2 separate regions of the Homo sapiens genome follow, and region 2 is linked to region 1. The links come from fine-mapping of genetic effects on gene expression. A gene starts in region 1. The other region holds a variant in brackets. All regions are shown on one strand. Distances are between the middles of the regions.

Evidence for each region. PIP is the estimated chance that this variant, and not a neighbour inherited with it, causes the effect.
Region 2: its variant is the best candidate, but not a certain one, in a credible set for the expression of LINC00926 in spleen (GTEx, PIP 0.79).

The regions. Positions count from the first base shown.
Region 1 is chr15:57,297,523-57,302,786 of GRCh38, forward strand. It overlaps LINC00926 (long intergenic non-protein coding RNA 926), which reads left to right and starts at 2,843. Exons shown (of 3, transcript NR_024433.1): 1 at 2,843-3,402. RefSeq lists enhancers at 853-902, 1,385-1,504.
Region 2 is chr15:57,057,638-57,062,637 of GRCh38, forward strand. All of the region lies in intron 3 of TCF12 (transcription factor 12), which reads left to right. Among named protein-coding and RNA genes, the nearest start is that of TCF12, 140 kb to the left of the region's middle. The variant T/C (reference allele first, on the strand shown) is at 2,863.

The DNA of each region.
Region 1 (5,264 bases):
TCTCTTCAGTGAAATGGGGATAATTAATGATCGTATCAGCTTACATGACGGTTGTGAGAATTAACTGAAGAATTCAGAGATGCATGGCACATAGGAGGCACTTCCTAACCCACCTAAAGAAAGCAAACCCACAGGGCAGCAAATCAGAAATGGATGAGGGCTGACCTCCTCTTTATTCAGTAGCACATGTCTAATAGACCCGACTGTGTCTCGCACATGCTGCCCCTGAGGAAGACTTATTATAGGGAGCTACAAACAGTGTCACCTGGGAAAGACAGTGAACTCAGTTATAGAACAAGAACACCTGCCCGGGCTGACTGGGGGCCAGGATGCAGGGAAGGCTGCCTGGAGGAAGTGACATACCCCTGAGTCTCAATTGGCCAGGGAAACAACTGAGCAATGATTTGTGAAAATGAGTTCAGTAGAGGTTAATAAAAATTGGGAGTCCTGGCCAGTGGCTCACGCCTGTAATCCCAGCACTTCGGGAGCCCAAGGCAGGCGGATCACAAGGTCAGGAGTTCGAGACCAGCCTGATCAACATGATGAAACCCTGTCTCTACTAAAAATACAAAAATTAGCCAGGCATGGTGGTGCCTGCCTGTAATCCCAGCTACTCAGGAGGCTGAGGCAGGAGAATCGCTTGAACCCAGGAGGCGGAGGTTGCAGTGAGCTGAGATCATGCCGCTGCACTCCAGCCTGGGCAACAGAGCAAGACTCCGTCTAAAAAAAAAAAAAAAAAGGGAATCCCTGCTGTCTGCAGTAGGCCAATCAAGTGTCCAAGAATTGTGAGAATGTGCTTCCCCATCACCACCACCAGCCCACACCCACACCAAAATGTGTCACCCTTCAATCCCTTCAAGTCTGTCTGCTCAGCATCCTGATCCAAACAAGCCACTTTAAAAAGTGCAGTTATGAAACAATTCGAACACTGACTGGACTACTGTTTATATTTTTAGATGTGATACTGTGGTTATGTTTCTCTAAAAGTCCTTGTCTGTTAGAGATACACACTGAAGTGTTTACAGAGAGAATGATACAATCGCTGTCTGGAATCCGCTTCAATACCATCCATTGTTGGAGGGTGGGTAGTGGGGTTAGGGGGTTTTGAGGAAACAAGATTGGCCCGGTCTATCAGCATTGATGCTGGGTGAGATAGGTAAATGGGGGTTCATTATACACTTTACTTTTGAAAATGAAGTTTTTCGTAATAAAAAGTTGAAAGAAAGAAGGAAGGGAGATGGGAAGGCAGGGAAAGGAGAAAGGGAAGGAGAGAAGGAAAAGATTCTGCTCAAATGTCCCTTTGGAAACCTTCCTTGACCCCCGCGTTGGTGTGGGGCCGGGGGAATGGGGAGGCTGTTTTCTGCTCAGCCAGAGCAACAAGGCCCATGAGGAGACAGGAGGGATGTCTGGGGAGCAGTCCCAAGCCACAGAGTCCTTCTGGGGACCAGCCACACCATGAAGAGAGAGCAGAACAGGGAGCATAGCACAGACCTATGACATAGCACTGTGCCATGACATCAGCTGGCAAAGGCCCATGGGACCAGGAGGGAGGCATTAGAAGGGCGAACACTAGCAGCTGTTGAGTAGGAAGAAATGTGAGCCGACTTCTCTACCTAAGGAAGCGGTGGCAAGGCCGTGGAGGTTCGGGATGGGGACGGGTTCCAGGATTAGAGTGCTTTTTTTTTTCTTTCTTTCTTTTGAAGGAGGAGAGGCTATGGGAGCCTCAGGTACCGAGCATCTGGTGTCTGGAGAGATGCAGCTACTCAAGGCAGTTTCTGATCTGGAACCAGGAAGTCTCTGTTTCCCCACCAGCCAGCAAACGTTCTGGACTTGGTGCTGGGCCTGCCACCACCAAAGGTGGAGATGCCCCACATACCTGCGTCAGGCATGACAGGTCACCCCTGAGTCCTTGGGTCTCCCCAAGGCTTCTCCAGGGCTTCCCAACAGGGCTGAGATTCAAGAAAACGCTCAAGGTCCACCCCACTGCTCCGACCCTCTCACCAGAAGAAAAGGGCTGTGTCCCAAGGGCAGCCTGCTTGGGAAAAGAATATGTGGGGTGACTTGTCCAGATCTGCCCAGGGAGGCTGGGAATGGAGAGAGAAAGGAATCTGCCCACCAGTTGGGGGAAAAGTGGATTTCGCAACAACCTTGATGATATTAAATGCTTGGGGGGCCTGGGAAGACCAAATGTTTAATATTTGGAGAAGAGGCTGTCTAAACAGAGTAATTAGGAGGCTCCTTTGTAGTGATATGAAAGAGATGAATTGGGTATATTTGACATCAAAGACAGGAGATCCAGTGGGGAATGAGACCCACGGCCGGGCGTGGGCAGCGCTGGAGGACAGGCTCTCCCAGTGTGCTGCGGGGGAGGGCAGCCCCTGCAGTGTGCGTGTTGAGTGCTGGGAAACCCCCAAGTAACACTTCCCCCCTCATTTAACACACTTCCTAAAACCTCTCCTCCCCAAAAGCCACTTTGCAAAAGCAGCGATTACCACCAACCACGAGAAACACAGGAGCCTGCCTTCCACTGTTTACCACTGGGCAGGAAGTCGTTTATGGACCAGTCTCTTGCCCAGGCTAAACTCAGAAGTGGACACTGAGGGCCGGTTGTGGGTGCCACCAGGCAAGCTAGGGCATCGGAGTTCAGCAGAGCTGGGTGGGAATTCTGCTTCTCCCTCCACTACCTGGGTAACCCTGGGCAAGTCACTTAGCCTCTCCGAGCATAAACTGGTTTGCTTGTAATATGCAAATAATAAGGGGTGGGGGAAATTTTTTTTTTTTTTTTTGAGACAGAGTCTCGCTCTGTCACCCAGGCTGGAGTGCAGTGGCGTGATCTCGGCTCATTGCAACCTCCGCCTCCTGGGTTCAAGCAATTCTCCTGCCTCAGCCTCCTGAGTAGCTGGGATTACAGGCGCCCGCCACCACTCCCAGCTAATTTTTGTATTTTTAGTAGGGACGAGGTTTCACCATGTTGGTCAGGCTGGTCTCAAACTCCTGACCTCGTGATCTGCCCTCCTTGGCCTTCCAAAGTGCTGGGATTACAGGCGTGATGGAGATGATACTCCCTAAATCACAAGGGTGTGGTGTGAAGATGAAATGGCTGCACGTGACAGAGGAGTTGGAGAACAGGAAGCAAGTGGATTACTTGGATGAACTGTGATGGGCCCAAGAAGAACTAAGCCAATCACTCCAGGGGGCGTTTTCCCAGGATCCAGGCAGAGAGCTGATTCCAGCATCCACGTTGTATCCCCCTCCCGCTGTGGCCGGGGTCTCCAAGAGCCGGGCACCCACTGCAGAGCTTCCAAGCCCAGGCCCATTTGAACACAGGAGGACTTTTGAGGTTCATTTAACCCCAAAATCAGTGATTCTACATCTCAAGCTCATATTTTGAAGTGTTTACGGGTAAGTCATATGATACTGGTCATTTATTTTTTAAATATTCTAGCCAAAAGTACATGGTAGACAAAGTGAGAATGTCAGAATGTTGATAATTAGTGAAACTAGACGAAGATACATGAAAGTTTAATTTTGATTCTCACCTACTTTCATGTGCATTAGGAAACTTTCATAATAAGTTAAAGTAACAAAATAGGCCAGACTCGGCTGCTCATGCCTGCAATCCCAGCACTTTGGGCGGCTAAGGCAGGCGGATTACTTGAGGTCACGAGTTTGAAACCAGCCTGGCCAACGTGGTGAAACCCCATCTCCCCTAGAAAATAAAACAAAAAAAAAAATTGTAGCTGGGCATGGTGGCAGGCCCCTGTAATCCCACCTACTCAGGAGGGTGAGGGAGGAGAATCGCTTGAGCCTCAGAGGCAGAGGTTGCAGTGAGCCAAGATTGCGCCATTGCACTCCAGCCTGGGTGAGAGAGCGAGACTCCATCTCTGAATAAATAAAGTAACAAAATACATTTCAGTCTCGAGCTCCAGTTCCCTGCCAGGAAGAGCTGAAGCTGAGCTCTGGCACCCCCTGCTTCTTCTCCCTCATCCCTAAAACATGTGGGGTACTGGGTGCCAAAGGAGATCTGAAGATGGCCACCACTCAGACCAGCAGTAGAGGCCAAGAAGGTGGTGAGAAATTTTAAGGTATTGTAGCATATGCTCTCCAGGGTGAGGACACAGGATGCTGGGACCTAAGGAGGGAGAAGTTAACCCAGAGAGGGCCCAAGTCAGGGAGGACCTGACTGTGGTGACAGAGCCAGTCATGCTAATAATAGGAGCAGTGGTTTTGCAATCACAAATATTGGTCTGGGGGACTGCGGGCCCAATGTGGTGGGAGTTTTAGAGCAGGGACCCCTCCACTGTACGTGGATTCTTATACTTGCTAAGTTGCACTGAATTCTCAATCAACCCATTTGGAGGCTCTCACCAAGACAGGAGTCCCTTTGAATTGGTAGGATGTTAAAAGCTTCCTCCAGCCATTGACCCTGGGTCCCATTGGTAGAAATCAGATAATAAATCAGATTTTCCAGGTAATCCTCAGTTTAATGTCCATTCCCTCATTCAATCAATTATTCAATTACAAATCATTTTTAATATGATTTTATGGTTCAGGAATTCAGGCAGGGCTCAGATGGGCAGTTCTTCTGCCCCACATGGCATTGGCTGATAACAGGCTACCCCAAGGAAATCACAGTGTAATGGGAGATGGGAAATAGGTTAACACAAAGTTACTATACTACAAGAAAAATCTTCAAATCTTCAATCTTCATTCTTCATGGGTGTGAGTCTTCTCTGGTGGAGAAGAGAGTTCTTTGCTAAATTATATTCCTGTGTTAGCCAGCCAAGCACACACGGAGTACAGCTGTCCCTTGCTATTCATGGCAGATTGATCCCAGACACTGCCACCCCCAGCCCTGTGAACACCAAAACCCATGGATGCTCAAGTCCTTGATATAAAATGGTATGGTATTTGCACATAACCTACACACATCTTCCCATATACTTTAAATCATCACTAGATTACTTATAATACCTAATGCAATGTAAATGCTATGTAAGTAGTTGCTACGCTGTATTGCTTAGGGAATAATGACAAGAAAAAAAGGCTGTACAACTTCAGTACAAATGCTATCATTCATTTTTTTATCTGAATATTATGATCCATGAATACAGAGGGCTGGCTGTAAAAAGAATGTACAGTTTGGTACTTTACTCCTAGTTTAAGTCATCTCTTTCGGCCCATACAGGTTGCCTGGGGCAGGGCGGTGGTGAGTGTGTTGAGTCGGCCCTATACCCTGTTCCACAATGCCTGGTGTCCTTGGC
Region 2 (5,000 bases), 240 kb before region 1:
GAGGCAGAACCTGTAAAACATTGTAGACCATTGGGTTTATTAGTAATTCTGAATGAGTTGGGAAGCCATTGGTAGGTTTTGAGCACAGGATGGACATGATTTGGCTTGTTTTTAAAAGGTTGCTCTAGTAGGAGGGGCAAGAAGAAGGGAAAACATTTAGGAGACTATTACAGTAATGCAGGTCAGAGATGATTTGATTGTGTTAAAAATAGCATCAACGTTTTGTTTTTTGTTTTTCCTTTCTTAAAACTACGTTTGTAGTGCTTCTATGGAAGAAAACACTGGCATTGGTCTTCAGATACAGGGCTTTGGTATATTAGATTGGGAGAATACTTGGTTCTCAGGTACGTTGGGAGGGCCCTTCCTTCTTTCTAGAAACTTGACAGCTAATTTAGGGGAGTTTTAAAGGTAGCTCAAGAGCCTTTGTCAGTCTTGGAATGTCTGTTCAGACAGTCAGAACAAGTCCTCAAAATACAGTGACCACCATATCACTATATAGTTCCCATTAAACAATTCCCAAGTCGACCCCTGGGAACGTATTACTTTCAATTCCTGGCCATCAGGCAGTTTCTGTTTTTCTTAAAGAGATAGACTTGGCATTTCCTTTTGGCCCTGTACTCTTACTTCTTTGATTAAATCAGTCATTGGGTTTTCCTTTTGTATCTTTACAGGGCATTTGTATCAGGGTGATATAGCTAGTAACAATAATATAGCAAAATCTATGTATGAAAGTCATTTTCAAAATTAGTCATTTTTTTGAATGAAATTTGCCATGTGTTCATTACCTTATTGTACTGTACTGTGGCACTAAAAACTTTAATGGAACATCTGTACTTGTAAATCTTTGGTTTCAACAGTGCCAAACAAAAATTCTGATTGGATTATTAAAGATGACCGGAAAGGGTGATTCCTTCTAATCTTTCCACCGGACTTACTTTCTTACATATGTGTTTTTTAGACTGTTTTATTTGACAATTCACTGCACAGAACCTAAATTTTTTATAAGTAAAAAAGTCTATAACTAATGTTATATACTTTAGATGAGGTAGCATGTTTTAACTTCTATTAAATTCCCTTGCAATTTTAATATTTTCCTAGCTTTTCCCTTTTTTACTAATGTGTAGCATAACAAAGCACTTGTTATTATATTCTAACTGATCCTATTTCACAATGAATGTCTGGGAAAATACATTCATAGATTTATTTCATGAGTGTCTAAAATGTGAAAAATACAATAAAAAATCTTGGTGTTGGTTTTTTAGGTGTATATTAGTTTACAATTGATTGCAGCCTTTGAGTCTTATCTAAAGGAATATCCTTACTCTACAAATAGAATTGAATAAAGACACTATTAAAAATAGACACATTCATAGCTTTGATTATCTGATATAGCTATCTCTAGTCAGAATTCTTTCATCAAATCATTTATTGGATCCCCCTACAGCAGATGGCAATCCTGCAAAATATGTTATGTTTCCCTTATTTATGACAGTGCTGAGATTTGATATTTTTGGAGTACATTTTACTTTCTAGAATAAAAATTTGATTTCAGTGCTACTAAAGGCAGAGTGCACATGTGCACCAGCGGGTGGGGGGAGAAAAAGAGAGAAATGTGTATGTGATTTTCCCTGTGCCCTTGCTCCCAACTGTATGTGTGTCTCTTTCCCACAGGGATGGGCTCTCATTTATGATACCCTAGCAGTATGGCCAGATTGAATTGCTTTTCTTACTGCTTTTGCTGCAGGGACATCCTAACCATTTCTCTCATTCTTGTATGCTGTCTCCCTGTTTCATCCTTTCATTCTTTCTTGGGTCATCAGACTCACCACTACTAACTGAAAATATTTTCCCATTTCCTGTCTTATTTCTCACTTTACCCTAGTCTTGGTTCAGGGTGGCGGAGTCTTTAGTGATAGGTCTGGTAGTGGCAAATGGGCAGAGAAGGAACTGGTGTTCATGTCAGCAGGTTTGTTCCTAATTCTTCCCTTTTACTTTCAGGCAGGTCTTGCCTAAGTCTCACCAATTCTTTAATGATGGTTTACTTACTCAAACTCTGCAGTGTTAACAATAATTTGTTTACAGGGCTCATATGTGGTGGGGGGCTGGGGGGAGGGTGGAGGGAAACACAATAGGTGCTTAGGGCATAGAAAAGCATCTCCTCCCACCAAAAAAAAAAAAAAAAAAAATTCCAGTTTCCAGTTTTTGCTAGTGGATCAAAACCTAGAGATGCCCATAGGACTCTGGTGGCTTGATGAAAGGGAAGAAGTAGGAGAGAGGCTGTGGGATAGTTTTTGATTGACACTAGAAAGAAAATACTGTTATTCAAATACTAAGATGGGAGTAGAGCATAAGAAGGTAGTCTAAATCTGTGTTCTTCCTAGAAAAGGGAGTAATGGCAGATGTTGGACTTGGGCAAGAAGTTTACCTGTTCCTCTAAGAGTCTTATACTCTGAAACCTTAAAAACTTGAATTTTACCTTTCTATTCCTTCTTTAAGGTATCAGCCTTTTAGGGAACTGCCTGTATATATAGTAATTTATGATTGCTCTTAGTTACTTTTCTTGTTAAATGTTTTCACAAAAGAAAGAGGCGGATTGCTTTTGTTAAGTTCACAAACTGTTGTTTTTAGATACGAGGTCTAGAATTTAATGTTCCTTACTGGAAAATACTAAGTTAAAACAGCATGCTTTTAAAAATGGAGCTCATAGAATCAGAATATATTACATTTGACTTAATTGATTCCATTCAGAAAACCAGGTACTAAGAGATTATCTATATAAAAGGTTAACAAGGAAAAAAATAATTTACGTCTTTCTGTTATTGATCACCCCTTTTAATCCTGTTGAATAGAAATGGAAAAAAT[T/C]TATTAGAAAGTCAAATAAGGCTCAAAAGTGTTTCTATCATTAATTATTGCTGAACTTTCTCTTACATCTGCCATTTTGGTTTATGAGTCAAGGAACTAACTTCTCTGAAATTGTTGAATTCGCATGCATATACTAGAAATGGGAATGATGAAAATAATATGGGAATGATAATTCAGAAATAACAGGAAAAATGTTACTTCTCATCACTGTATTGCAACTGTGGTGTATTTTCTTGTCAATAGGTATTTTTTTCAGATTTTGGTCAATTTGTATAATATCTGTGTTAAGTTTTATCTTCTGTGTGTAATTTCCTTTTTCTGCTTACCTTGGTCTTACGGCTGAAGCTTTGGAAAGTTTATTATTCCTGTCATATTTCTGTGTTTGTACAGCCATTGTCTTTAGCAGAAAGGAGTCATTGATTCTAAAAGATGACTCTTGCCTTTGTCAGTGCCAGCCACGACCTTTTACTCAGAGTCTGGATATGTTAACAATAAAACTACAGAGCTTGAGTTTAAAACCTAGCCAGATTCTTGTTATTCTATAGCATTCTTTGAGCCCCTTGTCATTTCCAGTATCAGTGGTATGTACTACTCTTTAGCTGGTGATGCCATCACCCAATTAATTACCATTTTATTTCATTAGTCTTTGCTTTTTCTTTATTTTATAGAAGTAGAGTCACTTGATGAAAATTGAATATGTAGTTTCACATAATTTTGTGTGTCTCTTGAATTTTGCTTGAGATGTTCTCTGTAACTGGCACCCATCTTTCCTCTCTCTCTGTTTTTACAAATGTATTTAAAATACATGCAAAGCTGGGCATAGTGGTTCACACCTGTGATCCCAGCACTTTAGGAGGCCATGGAGGGAGAATCGCTGGAGGCCAGGAGTTCAAGACCAACCTAGGCAACATAGTGTAAGACTCTGTCTCTACAAAATAAAAAAAAAAATTAATGATTAGCTGAGCATTGTGGCATGTTCCTATAGTCCTAGCACTGAGGAAGCTGAGGCAGGAGGATCACTTGAGCCCAGGATTTTGTGGTTGCAGTGAGCTATCATCATGCCACTGTACTGCAGCCTGGATGACAGAACATGAACGCTGCCTCTAAATGAGATAAAAATTAAAATACACATAAGCCTCATATTTATTAGTCATTTGATATAAGAAAATATGAAGTCATAAAAAGACTAAGTTATGGTTTGATTATTTTCATCAGGACAAGATTCATCGAAATCACTTACCATTATATGTTCAATAAAAGTGATTTTTTAAAATACAACTTTTCATAAAATTATATGCAGTTCCATATATTAGTGGATTTTGTAGGTTAATGGTCATCTTTTTCTTGGATTGAGTCTCAGAGGAATACTTGCTGCTATTCTACAGTGTTGGTTGCAGAGAAAATGCTTGGAAGATAGCTCACTGGTGTCTAATGATACTGGAGAGATGGTAACAGTGTTTTTTTTTTGTTTTTTTGAGATGGAGTCTTGCTCTGTCACCCAGGCTGGAGTGCAGTGGCACAATCTCGGCTCACTGCAACCTCCACCTTCTAGGTTCAAGCTATTCTCCTGCCTCAGCCTCCTGAGTAGCTGGGACTACAGGCGCCCGCCACCACACCTGGCTAATTTTTTGTATTTTTAGTAGAGACGGGGTTTCTCCGTATTAGCCAGGATGGTCTCGATCTCCTGACCTTGTGATCTGCCCGCCTCGGCCTCCCAAAGTGCTAGGATTACAGGCGTGAGCCACGGTGCCCGGCCGGTAACAGTGTTTTTTACATGACATTCCCCAAACTCATAGAATATCTCTTAAATTTGGAACTTTAATACTAGCTCCACAGGAATGAACAAAACACTGTTCACGTAATCTCTGTGTTTTCAAAGCCTCTGGTTCACTTGAAATTGTGCCTGGAATGTTGTCTATACTAGATACTCATCTTTTGTATCAACTTTTTAAAAAAAGTTATTAAAATATACTTTAGTCACTTGATACAGGAAGTACAGATTCATAAAAATAATAGAGTCCTAATAACTAAGTTAGTAATTAGTACATTCTACTTTGGAAACTGACCCCTCCCCCTTCCCTGCTTTTTGTTACCCATCCTTTCAATTTGGCAATTGTGTCACTATAAAAGAGCCTTAG